Linked DNA regions of Homo sapiens: region 2 is linked to region 1. Evidence: fine-mapped expression QTL. A gene starts in region 1. The other region holds a variant in brackets. All regions are shown on one strand. Distances are from middle to middle.

The links. PIP is the estimated chance that this variant, and not a neighbour inherited with it, causes the effect.
Region 2: its variant is fine-mapped to the expression of AUP1 in esophagus muscle (GTEx, PIP above 0.99). The same link has a PIP of 0.9 or more in sun-exposed skin and testis.

What each region holds. Positions count from the first base shown.
Region 1 is chr2:74,520,925-74,535,682 of GRCh38, forward strand. AUP1 (AUP1 lipid droplet regulating VLDL assembly factor) reads right to left here and starts at 8,782. Exons shown (of 12, transcript NM_181575.5): 1 at 8,656-8,782; 2 at 8,438-8,575; 3 at 8,208-8,358; 4 at 7,827-8,011; 5 at 7,493-7,565; 6 at 7,324-7,397; 7 at 7,016-7,082; 8 at 6,812-6,914; 9 at 6,547-6,666; 10 at 6,324-6,439; 11 at 6,017-6,135; 12 at 5,728-5,912. The coding sequence starts at 8,705. The coding sequence ends at 5,876. It overlaps DQX1 (DEAQ-box RNA dependent ATPase 1), which reads right to left and starts at 5,307. Exons shown (of 12, transcript NM_133637.3): 1 at 5,212-5,307; 2 at 4,569-4,824; 3 at 4,085-4,278; 4 at 2,999-3,383; 5 at 2,386-2,613; 6 at 2,195-2,294; 7 at 1,932-2,090; 8 at 1,656-1,847. The coding sequence starts at 4,805. HTRA2 (HtrA serine peptidase 2) reads left to right here and starts at 9,009. Exons shown (of 8, transcript NM_013247.5): 1 at 9,009-9,588; 2 at 9,693-9,897; 3 at 9,987-10,181; 4 at 10,415-10,447; 5 at 10,673-10,778; 6 at 10,932-11,001; 7 at 11,695-11,790; 8 at 11,896-12,395. The coding sequence starts at 9,083. The coding sequence ends at 12,061. It overlaps LOXL3 (lysyl oxidase like 3), which reads right to left. Exons shown (of 14, transcript NM_032603.5): 8 at 14,664-14,758; 9 at 14,368-14,530; 10 at 13,607-13,850; 11 at 13,392-13,507; 12 at 13,176-13,312; 13 at 12,958-13,069; 14 at 11,334-12,755. The coding sequence ends at 12,682. RefSeq lists enhancers at 5,405-5,574, 8,226-9,055, 8,228-9,110, 9,566-9,695, 9,716-9,785 and 2 more and a silencer at 9,086-9,175.
Region 2 is chr2:74,723,709-74,738,466 of GRCh38, forward strand. All of the region lies in intron 2 of LOC102724497 (a long non-coding RNA gene), which reads left to right. Among named protein-coding and RNA genes, the nearest start is that of SEMA4F, 77 kb to the left of the region's middle. The variant A/G (reference allele first, on the strand shown) is at 6,519.

The DNA.
Region 1 (14,758 bases):
AGCCTCCCAAAGTGCTGAGATTACAGGCACAAGCCACCACGCCTGGCTGAAGAAGAGTTTTTAAGTAAGAGAGTCCATGTGTCTGAAAAAGTTCACATTACTAGTTAGGAGGCTACTGAGGAAAACCAGCTGAGCAATGAGGAGGACCTACCATTGGCAGATCCTACCTACCGTATTCACTGGAAGTGAATATGGAGAAGGACAGATGAATATATTTATATATATATTTACATTTAGGAGATAAAAGTGAAATAACCTGGAGAAAGACTGGTCTAGAGTGATGGTAGCAGAGCAGCAGAGATAATAGTATTATCTGAATCTAAGACTCTAGAGAGAGGAAAAGATTTTGTGGTGATGGTGGTGAGGGAGTGGTTTAATAGAGCATTTGAGTTCAGTTCTGAGCTGAGGTACTGTTAACTATTCTGGTAGAAATGTCCATCAGGGGCTGGGTGCCGAGGCTCAGGCCTGTAATCCCAGCAGTTTGGGAGGCTGAGGTGGATGGATCACCTGAGGTCAGGACTTTGAGACCAGCTTGGCCAACATGGCAAAAACCCGTCTCTACTAAAAATACAAGAATCAGCTGGGCATGGTGGTGCGTGCCTGTAGTCCCAGCTACTTGGGAGGCTGAGGCATGAGAATTGCTTGAACCAGGCAGACAGAGGTTGCAGTGAGCTGAGATCATGCCATTGCACTCCAGCCTGGGTGACAGAGTGAGACTTTGTCTGAAAAAAAAAAAAAAGAAAAAGAAAAAAAGAAACGTTCATCAGGAGTTGGAGTATGCTCTCTCTCTCTCCCTCTCTTTCCCTCTCCCTCTCTCCCCCTCTCCCCCTCTTTCCCTCTCCCTCTCTCCCCCTCTTTCCCTCTCCCTCTCTCCCCCTCTCCCCATGCGTCTCTCCCTTGCTCTCTCTCTGTCTCTCAGATTCGAAGAATGGTATTGGGTGAGAGATACACGGCACAAGGTTTGGAAATTTTAAGGCTAAAGGTAGCACTTCAAACCATGGGTGTGGATAAACTTGCTCAGAGAGTTCAGGGAATAGAAGACAAAAGAGGCAAGAATAGAACCCTGAGGACCAATTTACAATGGATAAGAAGAGGACAAAGAGCTCAAGGAAAAGATAAAGGGGATGACCAGAGACGTAGGATGAAATCCATGAGGAGCAGCGTTACAGAGGCCTAGGGAGGAGGCAGTTTCAAGGTGGAGCGGTCAGCAATCTCAAGTGTCAAAAGAAGGTCATGAATAAGGGTTCAAAAGTATCCACTGGATTAGGTACCTGGAAGGTCACTGGTGAGTTGAAAGCTGTTTCACTGGCATGGTAGACCTGAAGCTGGAGTGCAGTGGGTGAGCAATACACCAGTTAGAACAGGATAGAAATCATGCTGCATAGCTGAAGGGGAGGATAGGGTTGAGGAAGAGGGGTGTGTGAGTTTTAGCAATAACAGATTAGGAGAGATTTAAGCATGCTGAGGGCAAGAACCAGCAGAGAAAAAAGGCTAAAGAGACAAGAGGGAGATGGGTGACTAAGCCTGGTTCTTTAGGCATTGTGAGGGGTGGCAACTGGAGCAGAGAGGAAAGGGCTAGCCTCAGGAGCACCAAAACCCAAGAGGAAGGGCTGAAGTGGTTTCAAGAGCTATGGATTTACAGCAGCGATTTATACCTGTGAGCATGGCAGCCAGGGTGAGCATCTCGTCCACACAGTCAAACTCGCATGAGGCCAGCAGGGCTTTGGCCAGCTCAGGGGCCAGAGGGAATTCTGATAGTATGACACCCAGATCTGACAGGTCCCCATCATCATCCAGGGCTGCCAGATAGTCTAAATCTTCCAGGGCTTGCATCAGTGCTTCTGGAGCTGGTGAGGAAACAGGGCTTACAGGATATGAAGTTTCAGAACTGGGTGGTCAGATGGCAGTGCTTGGGCAGGAGAGGTGCTCACCAGGCTGGTCCAGGAAGTGACACTCCCCTGGCTCTGCAATCTGTCTCCTTTTTAGTAGTAACACCAGGGAGCTCAGATTCTCCTCACACACCCTGGGTTGTGGCAATGGTGGAGCTTCTAGTTCTAAGAAGGACTTAGGATACAGGCAGAGGCAGGATCCTGAGGGGAAAAAGACCTGGGAAAGAAGACCACTGTAGATTTCTCAGGGCTTGCATGTTGGTGACTCTTGGGTTTTTTATTTCAGTGAGGGCAAAGGCTCTTACCTGGTGGGAACCCTCTTGCTCGCAATCGTCTTGCCTCTGCCTGACACTTGCTGATTGGCCTCAACACTTGGAATTCTGCTCGGATCCTAGGATTGTAAACCTGTTGCCCGTCCCCCAACCAAGGCCAAGACAGATCAGAGTGGGCCATTTCTGTCTTTACTACCCCACCGCTATCTCTCTCTCTCACTCACACTTCGGAGCTCCAGTCCTGAGTCGATGACATGTTGGATGGAAGGGAGGGAGAAGGAGAAGTCAGCCAGCCAGTGAGTGACCACAACCTTTCGGGCATCCATGTCCTCATACACAGCCTGAACGGCTCGTCCACAGTCTGGGTGAAGGGGCAGTACTCGTGGTGGAAGCCCTTGGAGAAGCAAGGACTCTACCTCCCTGGACAAGGATTCACAGCACAGGGAAATTTCCTGAGAAGAAGGGTGGGTGGGGCATTAGGGCAGTTCTCACGTTTTTTGGGGTCACAGATCCCTTTGAAAGACTGTTGAAAGTTATGGCCCTTCACTCTGAGAAAATGCAAATTACTCATAAAGTTGAAGGTTTTATAATTTCAGGGGTTCACTGAATCACAAATCTCTGCATTAAAGGGAATAAAAAAGTGAGTGGTAAACCTCTTTACCCTGAAATCCTCAAGTTTTTCTCTGGGACCCCAACGGAGAGTAAATACTGCAACTCTACTGTTCCTAAGAGGCATTGCTCCCATTCCCATTCCTCAGGACTGGAAGATGATGATGAGTACCTCCTTTTGCAGGCTCATTTTGCAGGCTGTTTTTTTTGTTTTGTTTTGTTTTTTACCTCCTCACTGGGCAGGAACACTAGCACATCTCCTGGAAGCTCCTTCCGACACAATTCAAGCACTGCTTGGCAGGCAGCTTCCACCCGATCAGGTGGGATGGTGTCCCAGTAGATGGGGGAAGGTCTCTCACCAGGCTCTCTGGGTATATGCACAATAGGAGGATTGCCCCAGAAAGCTCGGAGCTTAGGTTCAAGGGCTGGGTCAGTAACCACAACCACTCTGAGGTCCCCCGGAAGTTTTTCCAGCCTGGCATCTTGCAGTAGCCCCTGGAGTGAATCTGATGCCACCGACCGCTCCTGAGCCTCATCTAGTACCAGCACGCCCCAGGCTCCAGTGCCTCGGGTCGAGGCCACCTCCTGCAGAAGCAGCCTGTCCCAGCAGAACCTGTTGACATTGGTAGTGGGCAGAGGAATCAGTGTGGACACTGACCAGCCCCACAAGCTCAGGGAATCTTCTCCCCAAGGGACGTATATTTTGATATTGAAGGTCAGAAAAATATGCTGTGACTTCCTGAGCCTATGGACCCATAACTGTCACCCCACAACCCCGCTGAGAACACTTTGTTCACAAGGTATACGCCAGCTGGGAAGTGAAATTTTTCTGATGAGGGTGAGGCTGAATGTCTGAGGCCCCTGGCTGGGATTCAAGGGCTTATTTTAGCCATTGCACCACACACAATTTAGAGTGAGTTGGGGCCAGGCACGGTGGCTCATGCCTGTAGTCCTTACACTTTGGGAGACCGAGGTGGGTGGATCACTTGAGCCCAGGAGTTTGAGACCAGCCTGGGCAACATGGCAAAAAATATAAAAATTAGCCAGGCGTGGAGGTGCGCGCCTGTATTCCCAGTTACTTGGGAGGCTGAGGTGGGAGGATCACTTGAGCCCGGGAGGTTGAGGCTGCAGTGAGTTGTGATTGCACCACTGCACTCCAGCCTGGGTGACAGAGTGAGACCCTTTCTCCAAAATAAATAAAATAAAAAAGAGTGAGTTGGGCTAAGGGAGGGTATGGTGAGATGCCAGAGGAATGGGTTTGTTTCTACTGAATAAGGGGAATTATATTCGGGTAAGGCCTGCAGAGGCCCCCACCTGAGCAGGGTGTTGGGCCCCGTGCAGTCCTCCTGGGGGATGCTGTATCCAACCTCATGACCCAGGGTCAGGTCCATCTCATCAGCAACCCGCAGAGCCAGGCTCCGGGCTGCAAGAGGGTAGGGCTGAGTAACAGTAACCTGTCCTTTCTGGAACCCTCTGGCCAGCGCAAACTCTGCACACCACTGAGGGATCTGGGATAGAAGTAGGGAAGGAGAGCCAGTGAGGAAGATGTAGGACTTCAGTCAGAAGTGCTCAGGGAACTATGGCCACTTTAATCTTTCCTTATTTGGGGAGTCCCCTGGTCTTTCACCAGCCTCCAGGGCCAACCTAACCCATCCCATCTCTCTTCGTTCACCTTCCTCATGACCCCACGCAGCCCAGTCCCCCCTTGCCCAGGGAAAGGCCACTTTCCCTTTGTCCTCCCTTTGTCCTCCCTTTGTCCACTCCCAGAATCTGCCTGCCCCCACAACCCCCACCACACCTGGGTGCTCTTGCCAGAACCAGGCTCCCCAGACACCAGCACCACTCCAGTGGGGTTACTCTCCAACTGCTCCAAGAAGGTAAAGCGAGCAGCCCAGATGGGCAAGGCTTGGCGCTGCTTCAGCAGCTCATAGTAGCGGGAAGAGAAGGGAAGCCCATCAAAGGGGTTCACAGCCAGTTCAGACTCCCCAGGACTTGGGCCATACTCTTCTGCTAGCCTGAGAGGCTGAGAGGTCATGGTGGCTCTCTGGCAGGACCTGCAGAAGGCAGAGCAGCCAGTAAGGTCATATTTGGTGACCGACACCATCTTCCCACCTCAGCCCTGATCCTTAACCTCTACCTTCAGTTGATCATGCTCTGGGGCCCACCCTTCCCAGCATTTCCTGCCAGGAAACAGTGCTAGGTATTTTGATAAAGGGCTACTGAGAGTTAGTCGACAGTCCCTATAGTCAGGTAGTAGAAATCTACCTGAGACTATTACCCCGTTGGCAGGTAGTAGAAATCTTACTTAGGCAGGGGTCCTCAAGGGCAGTAGAAATTATGTGAGACCTAGTAACCTGTGGGAAAGTCCTGAAGGGAAAAGGATAAAGAATATAGGGGGTGGGGAGAGGAACAGCAGAGTCACAGGGATCCTGGATTCAAACCTGCTTGCAGCTCTAGGACGTGTCAGGACGGCAGTCAGCTCCAGACCCACGTAGTCACCACCAACCCTGACCGTGTGAAGTACAAAGGTAAATTCCGGCTCTACCTCAGGGATGGGCTCAAACTTCAAATCCTGAAGCCTGCTTTTGGGGTGGGGCTATTTGCTCCACCTTATTTAACCTAGTCAGGAACCTATGGAAAACAGGCTCCAGCTACCACACTGAGCATGTGTGAACTCTATAGATGATGTGTAGTGTGCTTGTGAAAGGCATGCTGGGACTTGTAGTTTTGCAGCAGCTTCCTCCAAAACCTGGGCTGATCACCCAAGCTGGGTCTTCAGTTCAGTTACACTTCCTTAATTTATCACTCATCACTTGGCATGAGGAGGTGATTTTAGACAGTTGCAGTCTGACTACCCCCTTCAAATGTACGAGAAGACTCTCACCCCCATCCCCCGCAGCCAAGGAATAAGGAACCCACTCACAGGGCTTTTGAGACCGAGAGAGACAACAGATGCCTTGAATGAAAACCATGAATTTAATGTGACATTGGGGGAGCCTCATCCTTCCCTTTTTACCACCCACCCATCCAGCCTGTTGTGAGTTGGGTGAGGGCTGCCCCCAGTCTCCGTCCTGCGGCTCTGGGTGCCATCCTGTTCCTTTGAGCTCAGTCAGCCTCCTGGGCTCGTCTCTCTGTGAATCTCCTGTGGGACATAGGGAGAGATATTATTCAGGCTTTGCCGTAGTAGCTCCATAATTCCATTCTCCAATTTGCCACATCCTATTAATTGTCCTCTAACCCCCTCACCTTCTTGCGTATTCATATAGTGCTTGCTTGCGCTCCTGCAGGCTCTCCTGCCGGGCCCAGGAAGACTTGGCAAATGTTAGGGCTGTTGGCTGAGGGGTCACCGGGCCAGAGCTGGGAAACTGAGGTGATCACAATGTCAGAGGGCTTGCGGAGTCATCATCATTAAACACGCATCGAATGCCTACTTTGCAAGAGAGGCACTATGCTAGGGTCTCAGGATCAAAAAAGAAAGGTCAGGGATAAGGGAGTACATAGCCTGCCCCCAACTCACCCCAACACTTGGATCTGACCATTTCCTGGGTCTCACCTTGGAGGCAGAGGCTGTGGGTAGGGACTGAGTTCCCTTGGTGATGTCTTCAGGCATGAAAGCTACGGCCCCCTCAAGCAGATTAGTGATAGTCAAGTCTACACAGCCAGTCTTGGCTGGGGAGAAAAGAGAAGGGAGTCCACTCCCTACTTACTTTCTTCCTTCACAACCCACTTTTCCTCCCTGTGCCCATCTCCCAGTGTGGGGCCACCCTTTCCCATACCCAGGTCTCTCTGGATGACACCCAATGGCACATGGGGCAAAACTTCCTTGACTCTCTGAGCCAGAGTTGCCAGTTGCACATCAGGAGAAGGACCAGGGGAGGGAGGGAAAGAAGACTGGGCTGTGGAAAAAGGAAAAAAAGAAAAAAGAAATTCTGGTAAGTAGAGAACTAGAAGGAGAGGCTAACTAGCACAGAAATAGGGGAGGAATCACAGTAGGCCGAAAAAAAAAAACCCCAAAAGCTGTAATGTATAGAGACCACATACCTGACTGGGGGCGCAATCTGGGGTGTCTTTGTCGCTTCATGTGCTCTGCTTTGTCAGCTGGAGTGAGCCGTGTCCCTGTCTGGCCCAATTCCTTGGCCACCAGCTAGGGAGAATTGGAAGACTGGAAGTGTCAAGATCTCAAGCTTTCCTCCCTCTCCTCCTAAGCAGGGACCCCGCCTCCACCCTGTCTGTGCACCCGACCACCTGTTGTACACGGAGTGCAAACTCCTCATTCGCTTCCCCTAGTTGGCGATGAACAGGACGAAGCCACCTGCAAAGAAACAATCCAGGGCTATGTTGTGGGCACCCAGGGTAGAGGCTGTCACCATTCCCCACTTTGGTACCTCTTTGCATGGTGGGTGGGAAAATAGTAAATACTGTAAATACTTTGTGTTGCCTCTGTGGTAGAACCTTGATATAAAGATCTACAAATGGACAGGGCAGAGGCCACTAATTCCTTGACCTTGAGGTGAGCCTCTCCCCAGCGACCAAAATGTGAGGACAGTTAATACCTTACTTGATACACCGTGAAAGGGACGAAAAGTGACCACAGCAGTTCTGAGACCCAGGAGGCATCTGACACCGTCTGAGGGGAGGGCATGAGATGAGGCCTAAGCCAGGGCCAGGGATGGGAAATTTCCCCTTCAAGCCCCAGAGATTCCCTGTTCAACACACACTCACCACAGAGACCAGGGGTCTCTGAACTTGCAGGGTAAGAGGTTGTACCACATCTTGGATAGAAAATGGCCAGGAACTAGAAGAGGAAGGAGAAAGTAGGATGGGAATCCAGCCAGCCTAGTCAGCAGCTCACACCTGCCTTATAACAGGCAACTGTCAAACTCTACAAGCACATAATTGAAGAATGAAGGGATTCAGGAGAAAGAACTTAAAGTGGACAGAAAGGAAATGAACTGGAGATGATGGGGTCTAAGGGCCGAAGAAAGTTGTAAAAACTCAAGGGCCCACAAGCTTGACCACCTACCCAGCTGGCGCCCCATACCTGTGCTAAACCCACCTGAAGCGCAGGAGCCCCTCCCGGCCATTGGTGGCCTCTTCCTCAGGGAATAGCAGCAGAGGAGTGGGGGGAAGCCTCGTGGAAGCACAGAATCTCTTGAGTGACTCCACCAACTCCCCCCGCCCATTCATCTCCATGAAGCCCCGAGACCAGCACACAAAGCTGGGGGGACTATTGAGTAGAGGCTGGGAACCAGGAGAAGAGAAAGCAAGAAGAAAAATATTGAGGAAAATGAAAAAAAAAACTGACATGTTGGGTAGAGGATCGGGGTTAGGGGTAAGGCTCAGTATCCTCCATGGGGAACGCGAGTGGGGACAGGGGGGCCTTCAGCTGGGCCCCAGGGAACCGCCCCGTGGCGCTCTCGGCCTCGCTCTCACTCACGGTGCTACAGGTGGTAAGCAAATTGACTATGTTGTGGTCGAAAGGTGTCACATGGTTGGAAATGAGGACCCTGACACTGTGATCCCGGAGTCCGGAGTCCTCCTGCCGGGCCACGAGCCCTAGCACCGCACACATGGTCCGCACTACGAATCTGGGGACACAGGAGGTGGTGACTGTGTGGCCTCGGGCCAGACCCAGCTCTGACACTCCCCGAACGCCCGCGTCGGAACCTGCGAAGGACGCTGTCTGGCAGCGCGCAGCTGACCAGGAAGACGTGGATCCCGAGAAAGAGGCGCAGGACGAGGAGGCAGAACCCGACTGGCGCGTAGAGCAGCAGCACGAGCAGTAGGAAGCAGTCACCCGGAAGCCTGGGGGCGAGAGGCGAAGTGGTCAGGCGCCGAAGGCCGAGAGCACGCGGGGATCGGTCTCTTCCCGCCGGGTCTCTTACCGGTGCGAGTCAAAGAGCCGCTCCGGCCCCGGCCCTGAGGGAAGCTCCATAACTGCTGCTTCAGGAGCGCCCGGCCGTCGCCGCCGCCGCCATTTTCGCGCCCGGCCGCAGGGGCTCTTGGGAAGGCGGAGTCTTTGGGCATCCGCCCGGGGTGAGGGGACCCGAAGTCCTGAGGCGCGCCGGAAGGGCTAGCGGTCCCAGCATACCCCGCGGCCCCTTGGGCCGTCTCACAACTCGCGTCCGGCGGAGACCACAATTCCCGGCATTCGTGGGGCAGGGAGGAGTCGGCCTCCCGGAATCCTGGTCCCGGCGTGCACTTCTGAAGGACTTCAGGTACCGGCGTGCCCCGCGTCCTACTGTCCGCCTGCTCGCGTCCTGGGTGCCGCCTCTGAGTAGGGCGGGCGAGGAGGCAGCCAAGGCGGAGCTGATGGCTGCGCCGAGGGCGGGGCGGGGTGCAGGCTGGAGCCTTCGGGCATGGCGGGCTTTGGGGGGCATTCGCTGGGGGAGGAGACCCCGTTTGACCCCTGACCTCCGGGCCCTGCTGACGTCAGGAACTTCTGACCCCCGGGCCCGAGTGACTTATGGGACCCCCAGTCTCTGGGCCCGGTTGTCTGTTGGGGTCACTGAACCCCGAGCATGCCTGACGTCTGGGACCCCGGGTCCCCGGGCACAACTGACTGCGGTGACCCCAGATACCAGGACCCGGGAGGCCTCAGAGAACTCTGGAACCCGTTCGCGCGCGTGGCTGGCGGTGGCGCTGGGCGCTGGGGGGGCAGTGCTGTTGTTGTTGTGGGGCGGGGGTCGGGGTCCTCCGGCCGTCCTCGCCGCCGTCCCTAGCCCGCCGCCCGCTTCTCCCCGGAGTCAGTACAACTTCATCGCAGATGTGGTGGAGAAGACAGCACCTGCCGTGGTCTATATCGAGATCCTGGACCGGTAATGGTGGGGGTAGACCGGGAGGCACTGAAGCCACAGGCTGGAGGGCGGGCGGGTAGGAGGGGTCAGAGCCTCCTCTTATCTGTGCTTTCCCTCCATTTCAGGCACCCTTTCTTGGGCCGCGAGGTCCCTATCTCGAACGGCTCAGGATTCGTGGTGGCTGCCGATGGGCTCATTGTCACCAACGCCCATGTGGTGGCTGATCGGCGCAGAGTCCGTGTGAGACTGCTAAGCGGCGACACGTATGAGGCCGTGGTCACAGCTGTGGATCCCGTGGCAGACATCGCAACGCTGAGGATTCAGACTAAGGTGGGGGCTGGGGTAGGCCAGGTCTGGTTGGAGCTGCTTATTTGCTCGCATCTTCAGATGACAGGTCTCTTTTACCCATTCTCCCTTAGGAGCCTCTCCCCACGCTGCCTCTGGGACGCTCAGCTGATGTCCGGCAAGGGGAGTTTGTTGTTGCCATGGGAAGTCCCTTTGCACTGCAGAACACGATCACATCCGGCATTGTTAGCTCTGCTCAGCGTCCAGCCAGAGACCTGGGACTCCCCCAAACCAATGTGGAATACATTCAAACTGATGCAGCTATTGATGTGCGTCCTGATAGGAGAGAAATGACAAATGATGGGGGAGGGGGGAGAGGCTGTGTGGTACAAGCACCAACTGATATATGGTGGATGAGCCTATATAGAGCTTAGGCTGCAAAAATGTGGCCACTTATTCATGGGCTGAGAAAGAAGAGAATTTGGAGAAAGTACCTACATCCTGGTATGCCCCCAGACTTAGAATCCCCAGATCTCTTTCATGTTTTCTCCTTGTCCTACAGTTTGGAAACTCTGGAGGTCCCCTGGTTAACCTGGTGAGTGAGACATCCTTCCTTCCAAGAATCCCTGCCCCAGGTCAGTGTGGGAAGGGTAGGTTTCCCCTAATTCAAGGATGTTTGGTCAAGTTTCTGAGCAGTTCTTTGTTGGCTATCTCTCAATATCCAACCAGATCTCCCCAACACTTGCTGGTACTTTTGTTCGGGTGCCCCCATCCCCTACTATTTGTTTAGGCTAGGGAACTGGGGGCTGTATCCCTGCAGGATGGGGAGGTGATTGGAGTGAACACCATGAAGGTCACAGCTGGAATCTCCTTTGCCATCCCTTCTGATCGTCTTCGAGAGTTTCTGCATCGTGGGGAAAAGAAGAGTGAGCCTGCCTTATGGGGAAACGGGTTCCTTTAATGTGGTGGAAATAGGGGAAGGGCATTCAGTGGGACTTCCTGGAGGGTGGTCTACTGGGAGAAGAGGGCAGGGAAGGAAGGATGTAGCTGGGTGGGGCTCATTTGTCCCTCTGTCACAGATTCCTCCTCCGGAATCAGTGGGTCCCAGCGGCGCTACATTGGGGTGATGATGCTGACCCTGAGTCCCAGGTATGAGCTTTAGGGACAGTGACATGTAATGTGACCAGTGTAATCAGAGGGGGGCACCTCTATTGAGCTTTGTTCTCATTTCTGTCTTTATCTAAGATGAACTGTGTCACACTTGAAATAATCACAAGAGCTGTCTCCCTTCATCATCTTGACTTTCTTATCCCACTCCACTTTGTACACCTGTCACCAGATTGATTTCATCCTGTTACTGCTTTGATTTCAAGCCTTCAATCCATTAACTTGGCATTTAAGGGCCATTTTCCATCTGTCTGTAAATCAACTTTCTAGACCTGGCTGTAATACCTTCCTATATGAATACTCAGCCAACCTGATTTCCTACTCCCATGTTTTTTATTTATGCTGTTCTTGTTTTATATGGTTAATATCAGATCCATCCTTTTAGGCTCAACTTAAGTTCTTTCCCCTTAAAGCTTCTCTTAGTATTCTAGAATGACATTAGTGCTATTGATTTAACACTGTTTGTCATTTGGTGCCCTCATGTGGTGTACATCTTTTATGTACATGTTGCACTTTATTGCTAGAAGACAGAAAGTGAGTTGCCATTGTATTTTGTAGTACCTAGCCCATGTCCTGTCCATATATTTATCAATGTGTTGATGAGAGACTTGAGGTGGAACTCAGGATGGGGAGAATGCCTGGGTTTGGCTAATAGGGTGATCTGTGTACTTTCAGCATCCTTGCTGAACTACAGCTTCGAGAACCAAGCTTTCCCGATGTTCAGCATGGTGTACTCATCCATAAAGTCATCCTGGGCTCCCCTGCACACCGGTGAGGGAGAGGCTGCAGTGTGATATGGGGATGGGCAAGGTGTGCATGTGTCCTTGAACTAGGCTTTGTACTCCTTCCTTTCTCTCTGTCCATTTTTCTCTATAGGGCTGGTCTGCGGCCTGGTGATGTGATTTTGGCCATTGGGGAGCAGATGGTACAAAATGCTGAAGATGTTTATGAAGCTGTTCGAACCCAATCCCAGTTGGCAGTGCAGATCCGGCGGGGACGAGAAACACTGACCTTATATGTGACCCCTGAGGTCACAGAATGAATAGATCACCAAGAGTATGAGGCTCCTGCTCTGATTTCCTCCTTGCCTTTCTGGCTGAGGTTCTGAGGGCACCGAGACAGAGGGTTAAATGAACCAGTGGGGGCAGGTCCCTCCAACCACCAGCACTGACTCCTGGGCTCTGAAGAATCACAGAAACACTTTTTATATAAAATAAAATTATACCTAGCAACATATTATAGTAAAAAATGAGGTGGGAGGGCTGGATCTTTTCCCCCACCAAAAGGCTAGAGGTAAAGCTGTATCCCCCTAAACTTAGGGGAGATACTGGAGCTGACCATCCTGACCTCCTATTAAAGAAAATGAGCTGCTGCCATCTTTTGTGGGCAGTTAGTCAGGTGCTGCTCTTTGTGGTGTGGTGGGCTCTGGTCTGTTCTGCTCGGTGCTGGGCCTGGGAGCAAAGATTCCCATGCTTGGCTACAGATACTGACAGCTGGCCTCTGAAGGAGGGTGAAAACTTCTGCTTGACAGTTCCACATCCATAGTGCATGGTCTGATGAGTGCGGTTGCTGACATGGGTTTCTTGGTAAGCTCCTGAGGTAATGGCAGCCTCAGACCCCTGCCATTAGGGGCCAGTGGTGGTTTGCAGAGGGCAGTGGCACTTAGATAATCTGGTTGCTGGTCTGGCCAGGGTAGCGTTCAAACCTCCTGTTGGCCTCTTCACTGAAGGCATCACCTGCAGAGTGGACAGGCAATTTGGGAGGCGCCCTGCACAGAGGGAGGGAGATAGATGCACTGTGGAGAAGGGTGGGTAGAAGTGGAGGGACTGAGAGCTCTACAGGAAGGTGGGAAGATGGAGAAACAAGCTATGGAAAAGAGAATGAACGTCTTTCCCTCCCATCCCCTAATCTTCCTGGGTTGCTCTTCCCATCAAATACCAATGTGGCAGTTGTGCACCCAGATTCTATGTCCATCATATTTGCAGTTACATTTCATTGCATTGTTGGTAAAGTCACTCTCTGCTACTTCAAAGTTTGGGTTGATGACAACCTGTGAGTGAGAAAAAGGCCACTTAACCCAGCGACAATCCTCGAATTCAAAGGTGTCTTTAACGCTCCCCCCACTCACCCATCTGGAAGCCCCAGACTCCAGGTACCTGGAGAATGTAGTTTCCTGGCTTCACATCCGTGATGTCAATCCACTGACAGTCAATGTCATGCCGGTAGAGATCCCAGCAACCCACAGTGATGCCTTGCTCTCCAAAGTTGGCACACTCATACCGCTTGGAGACATCTGGAGGGATTGGCATATGTCAGTGTAAGGAAAGGCTGTGCAATGGATACCATGTGGTTCACTTCAGTCCCCAACTCACCCTCCTGACACTCAGTGTCTTCGAGACAGAAACTAGCTTTGTGGCCCTCAGCCACCTTGGTGCCATTTGGGGTGAGGATATCATAGTGAGTGAAGATGTCCATGCTGTGGTAATGCCTGTGGGGAGAAGGGAACTTCTGTTTCCTTCTCTGCCCCCAGAAGGTTTGCCCCATCCCCCGTGGTCTTGCCCTTCTACTTGACTCCCTACCCTCTCACCCATGGCACTCGTGCCACACCCAGGAGTGGCGCCCAGCCTTGGGCCTGAAGTCAGCTCGTCCCAGGTTGTGGATCTGGGAGGAGAATCGGAGCAGACGCCGGTGACCATAGGGCCAGTTGGCTGAGCGGGCTGAGCTGGCCAGGCAGTTCTCTTCCGCAGCACAGTACAACATATGCAGGGGCCGGTCTTCGATGTAGGCGGTCTCCTGCACCAGTGCTGAGTGCAGCAACAGATCTGATGCAGCTGCACCAAGAAAGGAAGGGGGTGTTAGAAGTCACTGCTGACTTCACAGAGAGGGGTGCTTCCATCCCTCCCTAGTGTGTAAGACTAGTTTTTTGTTTTTGTTTTTGTTTGTTTGTTTGTTTGAGATGGAGTCTCACTCTGTTGCCGAGGCTGGAATGCAGCGGCGTGATCTTGGCTCACTGCAACCTCTGCCACCTGGGTTCAAGTGATTCTCCTGCCTCAGCCTCCCGAGTAGCTGGGATTATAGGCGCCTGCCACTGCGCCTGGCTAATTTTTGTAGTTTTAGTAGAGACAGGGTTTCACCATCTTGGTCAGGCTGGTCTTGAATTCCTGACCTCGTGATCCATCCGCCTTGGCCTCCTAAAGTGCTGGGATTACAGGCGTGAGCCACTGCACCCGGCGAAACTGGCTCTTTTATGGGGAAGAAGTGCCCCTCCAGATTACAGCCCCCTTTCCCTGCAAACGGGTGGCCCAGACACTCCCTTCCCTGGCATGCATCACCCCCTCCTTCACTCACTCTCAGAACAGATGACTCCAGCAGTGAAGCGGGTCCCTGTCCTCTTGCAGGTGATGTGGGTGCCATGATGGGCACACTGATCCAGGGACAGCTCAGTCCCTGTGCAGCGCACTCCACTCATCACCACCTCTGTTATATTCCCAGAGTCCCAGTACCAGGTCTCCTGGGGACATATGCAGATGTTTCTGTAAGGCCCAGGATCCAGCATCTTGGGCCAAGGGACTCATTCCTCAGCCCTCTGCCCAAAACACAGGCTTTGAGACAACAGCCTCGGCTCCCCTTTCCTTCCCACTCACCTGCAGGCCGTGGTTGGCGTAGCCCAGACCCAGTTGCCTACAGGCCACCATGGCCTCCAGGGTCCCCCAGTCATCCCCACAGATGAGGCCCCAGC
Region 2 (14,758 bases), 200 kb after region 1:
TTATTGGACTCACGTGGAAAGTTTAAAGGCATATAGGTTCCTGGGCTCTTCTCTGATATTCTGATTTAAAGTCTGGGGTAGGGTCTCTGGCACTGAAAACAAATCTCTAGACGACTTTGATTGTGGGGTTTGCTAATGTAAAAAAGAAATTCAAGTTCTCCACATTCTAATTGAAGTTTACTCTTCCACTTTATTATTCTAGAACCCTTTGCCTACCAGCCCCCAGCATGCTGTGACGATCCTGCCCCAGTATTGGACACCTGAGGAGGCGTTCCCTCTCCTATTCCTCCAACTGGCTCTTGTCCTGCTCTCATCCCACCTTTTCTTTGAAGTCTCCTGCCACTCTATCCCACTGTCACCTTGCCCTTCTTCACCTCCTGTATCTTCCTGTCTATGTTACTACCTAGGCAGAGCTCTCTAGCTTCTGAAGGTTCATGGATCATAGAATCCCAGGGCCAAGAGGGCCCTGGACATCCTATGTGTTTCAAAGGTCTTCCAAGCTCAGAGGGAGAAGTTGAGTTCCCTACGTGATACTTCAGGGCCATAGGTGGTAGAACTGGGAAGCGGTTCAGGATGTGACTCCAAACGAGAATGGCATGAGACGCTTAGGCTTCTACAGCTCCTTCCTCACTCTACGCAGCCAGGTGATTGTCTGCTCTGCCAGGGCACTGGGGCGAATGTCTTCTCTGCAGAGGCTGACTGAAGAGGCCAGGGAATTGGGGACTCAGTATGGCAGAGGGCAGAGCAGAAGCACTGTATTTGAAGAGCGGTATTAAGTAAAAGTTCACAAGCCAAGCAGGCTCCCCTCCTTACAGTTCACCGTCATCAGGAATACCTAAGACAAGAAACACAGTCACTTCTATCTGGAGAAACTGACAAGTCTAAAAGAAAATACTGACAGAAAGGACTCATCAACAAAATCGCTGGGTCCCCACCTAATCATCCTATAGCAAGGCAAGACCTGACAATCAACAAACCCTGCTCACATGCACTGAACTATCAGTCGGCCTTTTGGTTTCTCACTTTCACATATGAGTGAACAGTCATGGATCACCAGAGACCACAACAAACAAAAAACACAGGAAAAAAAGGAAAGTCCTAAAGTCCAGAGAGAAGCACAAAAAAGAAAAATTGGATACATATAAAGGAGTGAGAGGCCGAGTAACATAAGACTTTTCAATAGCAACTTGAGGAATTAAAAGCCCATGGAACAATACCTTTGATATACTGAGGAGAGTAGTTTGAATTTAGATTTTTCTTACACAGACAAACCATCCATAAAGTCTTACAGTAGACAAATTCGGACATGCAAAATGCTTATATCCTGTGCATTCGTTCTCAGAAAGATACTGGAGAATGTGAGCCTCAAAAATGATTAAACCAGGAAAGAGGAAGATTGAGATCTGGGAAATATGGGATTCAACACAGGAGAGGACATTCAGAATAATGCTGGGGAAGGGAAGTTCCAGAACAGCTGTGTAGCAGGCCTCAAGAAGAAACAATCCAGTCTGCAGTAGGAGAGGTACAGGGCTCCATGGGGAAGGAAAACAAAATAATAGATGGATCATCAGATACATATGAATATGTGGAAAACTGTATCAAGAGGCTGTTAGAGAATAGGGGAAGAAGTAATCTTAGAAACAAAGAAGCTAAACATGAAAATACAAGAGGACAGAGGACTGCACTGAAGCATCTAGTCATGAAAAAAAATGAGCTGATAGGTTCCTGATGTGTTTGACTGTATTGAGAGGAGTGTTATGTGAGAATTTGGGGAATGAAATTGAGATGAAGAAAGATAAGCAATTATTAAATCCTGGAAAAACAGAAAGTTGTGTAAGAAAGGAAATGTAATCATTGCACACCATATGACTCAGCGGCAAATAATATTCTATATTAAAAATAATGTAAAGAATAATATAAATTTAAACAAAAATGGAAATATAACTATATTGGGAAGATTAGTGCAGGAAAATTGAGTGTGTGTGTTTCAGTTATTACACTGTTTCTCAGCCATAAGCTCACCTTTTTACACTCTGCTCTGTGATGCTGGGGCTGGAACGCTGCAAACCACATTTCTTCTTTGCTGGCTGTCTTCATGTTAGGCTCTGTCAGTATGGAAATTAGAGGGATGCTGCAGAGTTGGAGGAGGAAGACAGAAAGAACATCTTCCTGTCTGCTTACTTCTCTCTCAATGTTCATTCATTCATTTATTCAACAAATATTTATTTAAAGACTGTTGTCTGGCCCAGCACTATTCTAGGTGTTTACCTTCCAGTAGGGAAAGAGAAATAATAAACAATATACATAATAAATAGATAAATAAAGTATATGGCATTATGTGGAAAAAAAGAACAAAGAATTAGAGTAAGGGACATTGGGAGTGCATGGGTGAGGTGTATTATAATTTTATCTTATTTTATTTTAACTTTTTGAGATGTAGTCTCACTGTGTTGCCCAGGCTGGAGTGCTGTGGCGTGATCTTGGCTCACTGCAACCTCTGCCTCCTGGGCTCAAATGATCCTCCCACCTCAGCCTCCTGAGTAGCTGGGACCACAGGTGCCTGGCTAATTTTTGTATTTTTAGCAGAGATAGGGTTTCGCTATGTTGGCCAGGCTAGTCTCGAATTCCTGACCTCAGATGATCTGCCCACCTGGGCCTCCAAAAGTGCTGGGATTATAGGCATGAGCCACCACAGCTGGCCTATAAGTTTATTTATTTTTATTTATTTATTTTGCAATGGAGTATTGCTCTGTCACCCAGGCTAGAGGGCAGTGGCATGATCTTGGCTCACTGCAACCTCTGCCTCCTGGGTTCAAGCGATTCTCCTGCCTCAGCCTACCGAGTAGCTAGGACTACAGGCACCTGCCACCACGCCCAGCTAATTTTTGTATTTTTTAGTAGAGTTGGGGTTTCACCATATTTACCAGGCTGGTCTTGAAATCCTGACCTCAGGCCATCTGGCCACCTCAGCCTCCCATAGTGCTGGGATTATAGGTGTGAACCATTGTGCCCAGGCTATTTTTAATTTTAATTAATTAATTATTATTATTATTTTGAGGCAAAGTCTTGCTCTGTCACCCAGGCTGGAGTGCAGTGGAGTGATCATAGCTTACTGAAGTCCTTCCTGGACTCAAGTGATCTTCCTGCACCAGCCCCCCAAGTAGCTAGCACTACAGTAGGTGTGCACCCCCGTGCCTGGCTGTTTATTTTTTTTGTAGCGATGCAGTCTTACTATGTTGCCTAAGCTGATCTTGAACCCCTGGCTTCAAGCAGTCCTCTCACCTTAGCCTCCTGAAGTATTGGAATTACAGATGTGACCCACTGTGCTGAGCCTTATTATTTTTATTGACACAAAATATAGCTACATATTTTCTGTGTACATGCAATAATTTATCCCATTCATATAATTTGTAAAGATCAAATCAGTGTAATTGGGATATCCATCACCTTAAATATCTGTTCTTTATGCTTTTCTTTCTGATCACTTTGGTTAGTATGAACATTTTAACAATGTTTATGCTAGAAACAGTTATTCTCTTATCACTATTTTGAAATAGACCATAGATTATTGTACACTATAGCCACTCTACTAATTTATCACACACTAGGTCTTATTTCTTCTATCAAACTGCATATTTTTACCCATTAATCAACCTCTTTTTATCCCTCTCACCCCCTAGCCTTCCTGGCCTCTGGTAACAACCAATCTATTCCCTGTCTTCATTAGATCCACTTTTTCAGTTCCCACATATGAGTGAGAACATATGATGTTTGTTGATTGATTGTTTCCTTTTCTGTGCAGAAGCTTTTTAGCTTGATGTAACCAATTTGTCTATTTTTGCTTTGCTTGCCTGTGCTTTTGGGGTCTTTGCTCAGAAAGCAAAAAAATCTTTGCTCAGACAAATGTCCTTGAGGATTTCCTCAATGTTTTCTTCTAGTAGTTTCATAGTTTCAGATCTTAGATTTAAATTTTTAATCTATTTTGAATTTATTTTTGTATGTGGTAAGAAATAAAGGTCTAGTTTCATTCTTCTGCATTTGGTTATCTAGTTTACCAAGCACCATTTATTGATGACACTTTTCTTTCCCCATTGTATGTTCTTGGCACCTTTGTTGAAAATGAGTTGTTTGCAAATGTGGGGATTTATATTTGGGTTCTCTATTCCGTTCTATTAGTCTATGCATCTGTTTGTATGTCAGTACCATTGCTTTGCAGTATATTTTAAAGTCAGGTAGTGTGATGGCTTCAGGTTTGTTCTTTTTGCTCAAGATTGTTTTGGCTATTTGAAGTATTTTGTGGTTTCATACAAATTTTAGTATTTTTTTTTTTATTTCTCTGAAGAATGTCTTTGGTCTTTGATAGAACCTGCACTAAATCTGTGGATCCCTTTGGATAGCATGGACATTTTTACAATATTAATTCTTCCAATTCATGAACATGAGCTATCTTCCCATTTATTAGTGTCCCTCTCGATTTTTTTCATTAATATTTTATAGTTTTAGAGATTTTTCATATCCTTGGTTAAACTTATTGCTAGGTTTTTTTTTGTAGCTATTGTAAATGGGATTGCTTTTTTTATTTCTTTCTCAGATAGTTCACAGTGGCATATAGAAACTCTACTGATTTTTGTATGTTGATTTTGTGTCCTGCAACTTTACTGAATCTGTTTTTAGTTCTAACAGTTTTTCAGTAGAGTCTAGGTTTTTCTAAGATCATGTTTTCTGTGAATAAGACTAGTCTGACTTTTTCCTTTCCATTTGGAATGTCCTTTTTTTCTTTATCTTGACTAATTACTCTGGCCAGGACTTCTAGTATTATGTTGAAAAAAATGTTGAAAGTGGGCATCCTTGTCTTGTTCCAGACCTTAGAGGAAAGGTTTTCAATGTTTCCCTGTTCAGTTTGCTGTTAGTTGTGGGTTTGTCATATGTAGCCTTTGTTATTTTGCAGTATGTTTCTTCTATATCCAATTTGTTGAGGGTTTTTATTAGAAAAATATGTTGAATTTTGTTGAATACTTTTTCATCATCTATTGAAATGATCAGGTGGTTTTTGTTCTTGGTTCTGTTAATGTGATGTATCACATTATTGATTTGCGTATGTTGAACTATTCTTGTATCCTGGGAAGAATCCCACTTGATCATGGTGAATCTTTTTAAATATGTTGTTGAATTTGGTTTGGTTAAGGATTTTTGCATCTGTGTTCATCAGGGATATTGGCCTGCAGTTTTCTTTTTTTGTGTGTGTGTGTCCTTTATTTCTCTTTCATATTGGAAGGATAGCTTTGCAGGTTACAACTATTCTTGGTAAGCAGTTTTTGTTGTTGTTGTTGTTGTTGTTGTTGTTGTTGTTTCTTTCAGCCCTTCGAAAATGTCATCTCACTCCCTGATGGCCTGTATGGTTTCTGTTGAGAAGTCTGTTGCCAGAAGAATTGGAGCTCCTGTATATGTTATTTGATTCTTTTCTCTTGCTGCTTTTAGGGATCTCTCTTTGTCCTTGACCTTTGAGAGTTCGATTATTATATGCCTTGGGGTAGTTTATTTGGGTTATACCTGTTTGGTGTTCTCTGATCTTCCTGTATCTGGATATTTATCTTTTCCTCAAGTTTTGGAAAGTTTTCTATTATTATTTCTTTGAGTAAGTTTTCTATTCCTTGCTCTTGCTCAATTCCCTCTTGAACACTAGTAATCCTTAGATTTGGTCTTTTGAGCCAGGCACGGTGGCTCATGCCTGTAATCCCAGCACTTTGGGAGGCCGAGGGAGGTGGATCATGAGGTCAGGAGTTCAAAATCAGCTTGAACAACATGGTGAAACCCCGTCTCTACTAAATATGCAAAAATTAGCTGGGCAAGGTGGCGCATGCCTGTAATCCCAGCTACTCAGGAGGCTGAGGCAGGAGAATCACTTAAACCCAGGAGGGGGAGGTTGCAGTGCAGTGAGCCGAGATTGTACCACTGCACTCCAGCCTGGGCGACAGAGTGAGACTCCATCTCAAAAAAAAAAAAAAAAAAAAAAAGAGATTTGGTCTTTTGAGGTAGTTTTGTATATTTTGTAGGTGACCTGTATTTCTTTTCATTCTTTTTTTTCTCCTCATTTCTCCTCTGTGTATTTTCAAATAGCCTGTCTTTGAGCTCATTGATTCTTACTTCTGCTTAATCCATTCTGCTGTTGAGAGCCTCTAATGAATTTTTCAGTTCAGTAAACGTATTTCTGTTTCAAGATTTGTGATTTTTTATACTTTATTTTATTTTATTTTTAAATTTTGAGACAGAGTCTCACTCTGTTGCCCAGGCTGTAGTGCAGCAGTGCAATCTTGGCTCATTGCAATCTCCGCCTTCTAGGTTCAAGCAATTCTCATGCCTTAGCCAACTGAATAACTGGGATTACAGGCATGCGTCACCATGCCCAGCTAATTTTTGTATTTTTAGTAGAGATGGGGTTTCACCATGTTGGCCAGGCTGGTCTCAAACTCCTGGCTTCAAGTGATCCTTCTGCCTCGGCCTCCCAAACTGCTGGGATT[A/G]CAGGTGTGAGCCACTGCACCCAGCCGCAAGATTTGTGTTTTAAAAAACTGCTTCAATATCTTTGTTAAATTTCTCTGACAAATTTTGGAATTGCTTTTCCATGTTATCTTGGAAATTACTGAGTTTCCTTAAAACTGCCATTTTGAATTCTTGGTCAGAGAGTTTATATATCACCATCTTGTTAGGGTCAGTTACTGGTTCCTTGCTTTGTTCATTTGAGGCAGTCATAGCACTCTACTGGCTGCCGTTTCTTGTGGATGTATGTCTATGTTTTTGCATTGAAGGATTAGTTATTCCAGTCTTCTTTGTCTGGCTTGTTTTGGTTTTTATTGGGTATGTTTGCTTAGAGATTCTTTGTAATTTATCAGTTGATTTTCTTTCTTATGTTCCACTGCTAGGTTGCTGCCTCCTTTTTGGCACTAAATGGTGCCTTAAGCCCGGGTTTGCCCTGGTTCTATTAAACAACCAGAGTACCACCAGTACTGAATGGGGTAGGTCTCAAGGGGGAATATCCTGGTAATATCGAAAGGCTGGTTAAGAGTTTATGCCCAAGGATATGTGGAACAAACCTACAGTGTGGTGCTGCTCTAATTTGGTGTCTTCTTTGGCTGAGAGCAGTTTTCACAGCTGGAGATGGTAGTCCTGCCTCCTCAGTTTCCTTAGGGTGATTTCTCCTTTCAAGCACTCCCAGTGCATCCTGTGGTTTGAGGCAGGGACAGGTCTCCTGACAGAGAACCAAGAGGGTGGGCAAGCTGGTTGTCCACCCCAACTCACTTTTTCCAGTGTAGAAACCATGCGTCAGGGGAAATTTTCTATGCATTTTGTGCTAGGCAGACTGGGGAAAGGGGTGTCACAGATATGGAAGTCCAAGTCTCTTACCATCTGCTTGGAGTTTTTTTCGCTTCTCTGAGGCCAGGAGAACTTTCTCATCTTCATATTTGAGTTATAATTTATTGCTAGTGATAATCTCAGCACTGTATATTTGATCTTGGTTTTCTTTGGGGTGAGTGAAGCCAGCTTGTTTCTACACCAGCTTGTTTCTACACTCGTTTCTGGTTCTGCCATTTCAGAACCAGAAGTCTCCACAATTTTAAATAGAGTGGTCTGTCTGGGTAGACTTTATTGGGAAGAAGACATGACAAAGAGAAAACTTGAGCAAAGATTTGGCCTTAAATGTGAATAGGCTTGGCATACTTGAGGAATGTTCAGAGAACAGTGTGGCTGGACCGAGGGAGAGAGGGTGAAAAAAGTGAGAAAGTTGAAATTGTTTGCTGTTGGAAGGAGAAAATTAGAAGCAAGGAGGGTTTGGGCAGAAGATTGCCTTTCATAAGTCATGTATGATCATTTCCTTTTTCAATTGTGGACATGTTAACTTTTGTAAAAATAGAGCTTAAACTTAAAAATTATAAATCACAAAATGCAATGTGATTTCCTGAATTGGAACAGAAAAAGAATGTTAGTGGAAAAACTGGTGAAATCTGAATAAAGGCTAGTTAATCATAATGTACCCTTTTTTTTTTTTTTTTTTTTTAGTTTTAGCAAGTGTACCATGTAATATAAGATGGTAACATTAGGGGAAACTAGGTGAGGGGTATATGATAATTCTCTGTATTATCTTTGCAACTTTTCTGTAATTTTTCTAAAATTATTCCAAAATAAGTTTATTTTTAAAAAGCCTTTAAAACAAACAAAAAATTGAATCAGCTGATAAAATGCTGCCTTTTCCCTTTCCCCAATTCCAAGCCTTGTACTCTTACCTGGGTTTTAGCAGTTGGTCATTATTAGGTAGGAAGATGTGATTTACCTATGGACCCGGGCTGATCTCCAGATGGAAGGAAAAAGGCCAGCAGGGAAGGCTCTGTATATCATATCTGTGGAGCATCCAGCTCACAGCTTCTTGGTGGGTGACATTCAGAAGCTGAGAAGCAGAAACCAAAACAGAGGCATTTATGCAGGGGAAAAACAAAACCAAAAACAAAACATTAATGTGTAATTCCCATAAGTTCTTAAGAAAGCAGAGTAACAAATATATCTTTGCAGGACTTTATTTCTTAATCTCTGTCTCTAGAACTCTGTAGTTATTTCTAATAATGAGTAGTTTCAAAGTAGAAATAATCCCAGATCCTTGATCGAATAGCTTTTTTCCTCTCTGCAGAGCTTCCTAAATATTTTTGGTGGGGGTGCCTGTTCAGGTGCTTCTGCAGTTGATGCTGAAATATTTCCTTATGTCAGTGCTTTCCATGTATAATTTTACATGCTTCAATGTATGAATTACTAGAAATGTGCCTTAAAAAGTTTTATATAATTATTTAGTATGGAGCTAGCAAAAAAAAAAAAAAAAAAAAAAAAAGGTGGCGGGGCGGGGAGAAGAAAAAAAAATAATGAAGAAAAAGCTTAATTTTTGGTAACTATTGCCTCCTACTCCCTCCCTGGCAAGTCTTTTTTTGAGTTTTGAGGAAATCCTTTTCTGCTCATGCTTTTTCCACATATTCTACCTTCATCCTCAATTCTTCTCCCTTCTCTATTGTTTAAGTTCTTGGGATTAAAATCCAGGAAGGAAAGTATTTTGCATATTATTTTTATATTTTGCCCCATGACATACCTCCTCTGAGATGGAGTAGGCTACTCCTTAAACTGGGGTGAAAGAAGAAGGGAAAAAGAAAATGAGAGAAAGAGAGAGAGAGAAAAAAAGGACATTTCAGCATATTATCCAGCCACATTCAGTCCACTTTTCTTGCATCTAGGAGTCTGCCCGATGTATTTTCTGGGATTGTTAGCAGTTAGGGGATGAACAGTGAGCACTCTGGAGTTTGTTTTGATTTTATTTGTGTTCTTCACGCCTTTTAAAAAATCACATAAGAAATAAATTTATTGCAGAAAACAAAAAAAAGTGATAGAAAAAATGTTAAAATAAATTGAAAATCACCTTTAATCTCAGAAATACAGAAACACTTATCCTCGTCCAAAATATCACCAACCACTCAGTGCCAGAAACCAACACACGTAGAGAAATAGAAACAAGGGGTGAAGCCCTGAGCGTGTGACCCTGCGGCTGCAGAAGCTTCTGAGACCCAGCTGCCTGTTCTTCTTTTGGCTTTGTGGTTTCGTGTTTTGCCCATCACATTAATTTTCTGTATTGAATGACACTCTTTTGGTTGTGGCAGAAACCCAAGTTGAATTTATTTATAAAAAAATAAATAGAAGGCTGGGCGTGGTGGCTCACGCCTGTAATCCCAGCACTTTGGGAGGCTGAGGCGGGTGGATCATGAGGTCAGGAGATTGAAACCATCCTGTCGAACACGGTGAAACCCCGTCTCTACTAAAAAATACAAAAAATTCGCCGGGCATGTTGGCGGATGCCTGTACTCCCAGCTACTTGGGAGGCTGAGGCAGGAGAATGGCATGAACCTGGGAGGGGGAGCTTGCAGTGAGCTGAGATCACGCCACTGCACTCCAACCTGGGCGACAGAGCGAGACTCCATCTAAAAAATAAAAATAAAATAAAATAAAATAAAATAAAATAAAATAAAATAAAATAAAATAAAATAAAATAAATAAATAGAAACAGGATGCCTGCTCAGATTGCATAAGTTTGAATACCAACTCCATGTGGTCTTTGGCATATTACTTAACCTCTAAAAGCCTCTGTTTTCTCATCTGGGAAAGGGTACCCATGTTCTCTGGAGATTGTTATGGGAATTGAATAAGATAAGAAATGGGCCTAGCACATGTTAATCACTTAATACATGGTGCTAGTCTAGCAGTAATTGAATAGTATGTGGTCACCCGAGTGGAGGAAGTTGTGTTGTTAGCATGTTATTCCTAGAGGAAGTTGGAAGGCAGGTAACAGAGGGAGTGAGGCAGGCCTTTTCTTTCTCACATGTGCACGCCCGTGAACTCCACCATGACCTGCTGTAAGAATTGCTGGTGTAGACAGCCATGCTGCTAATATCCTCCTCCACCATGAATACCCCCAGGGAGCACAAGAGGCCCTGACTGACTATCTCTTGACTAATGGTCAGGCCACGGTAGCCAGAGTCCAGGAAAATCTCAAACTTCATCAGTAATGAGGGGAGATTTTGCCACAGGTTATCTGAGGGAGCCAAGAGCTCTGCAGTTTGAGATAGTGGTTTCAGATCTGTGGAGTCACAAAAAGTCATGTAAGATACCTCTGAGAATTTAGGTTTGTTCATTCTACTGAGGGTAGAACTGCACATTGTATTTATGTCCTGAGCCCATCTTTTTGTCTTTTTTTTTTTCCAAATCAAATCAACTTTGAGGGGGATATTTAGCATCTAGTTAAAACAGCTTATGAAAAACCAGCCAAAGTCTGGTAAAAAAAACCTCTTTGGAAATGACGACCATAATCTCTGGTTTGTAGATCTTTACTGCTCTTACTAAATGTTCAAAGAGTTTTCTGGGTTTTTTGTTTGTTTGTTTGTTTTTTAGAGATTAGTATGCACACATGAATTAGGAAGTATTCCTAAAATCAGGAAGCAGGAAGAAAGCAGGATTGAGCAGAGGGAGAACTTGGCTATGATGTTGTTACAACGCCCTCAATGGATCCTATAGAGAGTGATGAAGCTAGACGTGACTTTCAGAGTTGTGCAGAGCTGGGGTGAGAAGGCCAGGCCTCAACCCCTCCCACCCCAACCCCCACACTACCTAACTGGATGGACATTAGATGTGATGTTCAAAGGATCTTAATGGAATAGTTGTTGAAACAGATCTGAGATGCAGTAAATTTTGGTCTGCAGAATCAAGTCAGCATTACCTCAATCAGAATTTGTGATGAACATATACAAATACATCTGGCTTGAGACAGCCTAGTTTGAAAATATACACAGGCTCAGAAGGGACACGCTGTTTCTCACCAAGTCCTAGGTTAGGCAATGCCACTGTAAGGTGATTGCTCCTCCTAGGCACCAGGCCTGTAGCCCAGGTAAAGCTGCCACTTGTGTGAATAGTGGAGGCTGGCTTTTGGACTTATGATCCAAGCAGACAGGTTTTTCCTAAGTATGGTTAACTGAGTCATAAACTATCACATCCTGTATAACCCATTTGTGTTTTTTTCTGACTAAAATAAAACTCTCCATTAAAACTGAACAGCAATTAAACGATTTCTAATCTCCACTTTACACACAAGGCAACCTGCAATTTATAATAAGATTTGAAGACACAGAAACATCTCTTAGTTTCCCACCTCCCCACCGCCCCCGCCACTGATCTGCTTCAATAGCTGGAAATCTTTGTTTAATCTGACTCCAGGTCTTTCTTTGTGTTTGAGAAAACATTCAGACTGCATCTTCTGTGGCTTCTCTATGTCCCAGCTGCAACTTCAAGAACCCTGATCAGTGCGATCAAAGTTGTAATTTAAAGCTTTTGGGAAGCCCAGGCTTTCTCTGTATTAGACAGTTATCAGTCCTCATTATCAAACCACTCATCCCCTTTGTTGCTCTATATAATAGAAAAAGCAGCTTCCTGCTCCCAGTGACTTGGCAAAAAATTGAATAAGAGAGAGAGATTATGGCCATGGCAGGTGTGCACAGCAGGGTCCTTCCCAAACCCCCTCTCCTCCGAGCCTTCTCTAATCAGAAGGAGTCATTGGTTTCCCTTTTCAAAGGAGCCTGTCTACTTGGCCTCATCCCAGGGTCGAGAGTAGCTCAATGATTAAATTCAGTGACAGAATGTAGCAGCTCTTCCTGCTGGAACCTTTCCAGACTACTTCCACCACAGCCATTAATTTCTTGAAATTAATTTTTCCTTTTATCTAAGCAGTACACACATATCTTTAAAAGTTAATGACAGAAGTCTCCTATGAAAAAACAGCAGTCTCCTGCCCCATCCACTCCTTTATTCTTATTAAGTTTTTTTCTTTGCCGTTTATCTCTATTTTTATTCTATTTGATATGTGCGTATCATTGGTTTGAGGCATCAATTTTAAACTTTATCTTTTGGCTTTCTCATGAACTACAAGAGATATAACTTTCTTTCTGTTCTGATTTCAGATTTATATTTTTTATATATTATTTCATTATATTATTTTATATTATAAAATGTTATATTATTATGACTATGTAAATATTGTTTATTGCAGAGCAAAGGAGTATATTATAATGTTTTATTTTTATACATTTTTGGATATTCCTAGGGTTAATAATTGCCTTTCCATCCATTTGCTTAAATTACTTGTTTCCTTTGGGTAGTATCTGAACATGATTATTCCCATTGTTAAATAACTTACCAGATAACTTTCCTGACTCCATCCTCTTGCTTCAGGCTGACTTGTTGCTCTTGGAAACAGCTGTGCAGCATGGCTCTAGGCCTTCCCTTCATCAACCTGGAAATCCCTTTTGACTCTTATTTGTGTTTGATCTCATTTCCTGGATCCTAAGTCTTTCTTTTTTTTTGATTTATTGACCCTCTCATTTTCATGGAACATGTTCTTAAATAACTATTCCTGAGAAAGAGTCCGTGGAAGCAAAGTTTTCTGAGATCTTTCAAGCCTGTATTTTTCCTTTGTCCTCATGCCTGACTGATAATTTGGCTGGGTATAGAATTTTAGACTGAAAATAATTTTTTTCCTTTCAGAACCTGGAAAGCAGTGCTTTATGTTTTCTAGCTTTTTCTGTTACGGTTAAGAAGTGGCCATTCTTATTCTTAGTTATTTGGATGTAATTTTTTTTCTCTTTAGAAACTTCTGTTCCTCCTTGGTGTTCTAAAATATGATCATGGCAGAAGTTATATTCTTTTTCTGGTACCTGATGGGCTCTTTTAATCTTTTTGTTTGAAGCATTTTTAAAAATTATTATTTGTTTGATAAATTTCTTCTCTCTCAAGTTTTTGTTTGCTCTTTCTAGAATTCTTATTACTTGAATATTGGACTCCCTGAATTGATCCTCTAATTTTCTGGCTCATTTTCTTTCCCTATTGTTTACCTCCTAGTTATTTTGTTTTGTTTTTGGGGAGACTCCCTTGAATTTACCTTCCACCCTCCCTATTGACTTTTTTTTTGACTGTGGCTATCATATTTAATTTCCAACTTCTCTGATAGGTTTCCTGTTTCTCCTCCTCCTCCTTCTATAGCATCCTCTTCTTGCTATTATCTCTCCAAAGAATACATACAGTTTTTCCTCTAAAGTTGTTTTTCTTCTTGTTCTTTTCTTCAAGTCCCTTTTCTCTGTCTGTTCTGGCCTTTGTTTTTCACCTTGGGGGTCTTTTTCAGATGTCTATGGATCCTTAACCATTCATTAATATTTGAGTCAATCACTAAGAATCTGATGTGGGCTCTATGGGCAGGGGTAGGGCTTGCTTCTGGTGATCTCCTTTGTAGGACCGTGGTTCTCAGTAGGGGCAGCTCCTGGGCAGTTTGGAAAGTTGTGAGGATTTTTAGTTATCACAGTTATTGGGGGGCCTACTAACATTTAATATGTGGGGGACAAGAATGCTAGTTGGATTGCAGGACAGTTCCACAAAACAAAGATTGTCCTGTATCTAGGGCTGCCACCTAAAATAAAGGACACTCAGTTAAAATCGAATTTTGGATAAACAACAAATACATTTTTTTGTATTAGTATGTCTCAAATATTATATGTTTATGGGCCAAATCTGGCAACCCTGTCTGTGTCCTATTCTATGTCCTACTGCACAGTTATGTGGGTGAAAAGCTCTTTATAATGATTTGATTCTTGATATCAGCTCTGCTTTATATATAAATACAAATACTTTTTTCACATGGATTTAACATACCCTGTGATTTTTTAAAATGCAGCTACTATGTAAATTGAGAGGAGACTGGACTTTGTTTTGTTTAGAACTTAACCAAGGGTTGTCACCATTTAGAAAAACATGTCAATGGCAACAGCACTGCTCATGATCAAATATGCAGATAATTTTTACAATTGCAAAAATTAGGTTTGCAATTGTCCCTCTTACCCAGAGGGGTTCCAATGCACTAACTTAGATCTTATTTCAAGATGGCAAATATAAGAAATATGACAAAATAAAATGAACAATGGTATCAACAATATTCAGTTGAATATGGTCTAACTTCTTTTAAGGTTGGACTGTTCATTGTAAAAAATGAAAGCATCTAACTGTTTCATTATGTCTCCCAGGTATGCTGCCCATGTGCCTACTTAGTAAACCATCTTGGGCCGTGAACTACTTTCCTTTTTTTTCTCCTTCGTAAGGACATTATAATTTAAAGAAAATAATGTGTAGGTTGATTATTTTAACT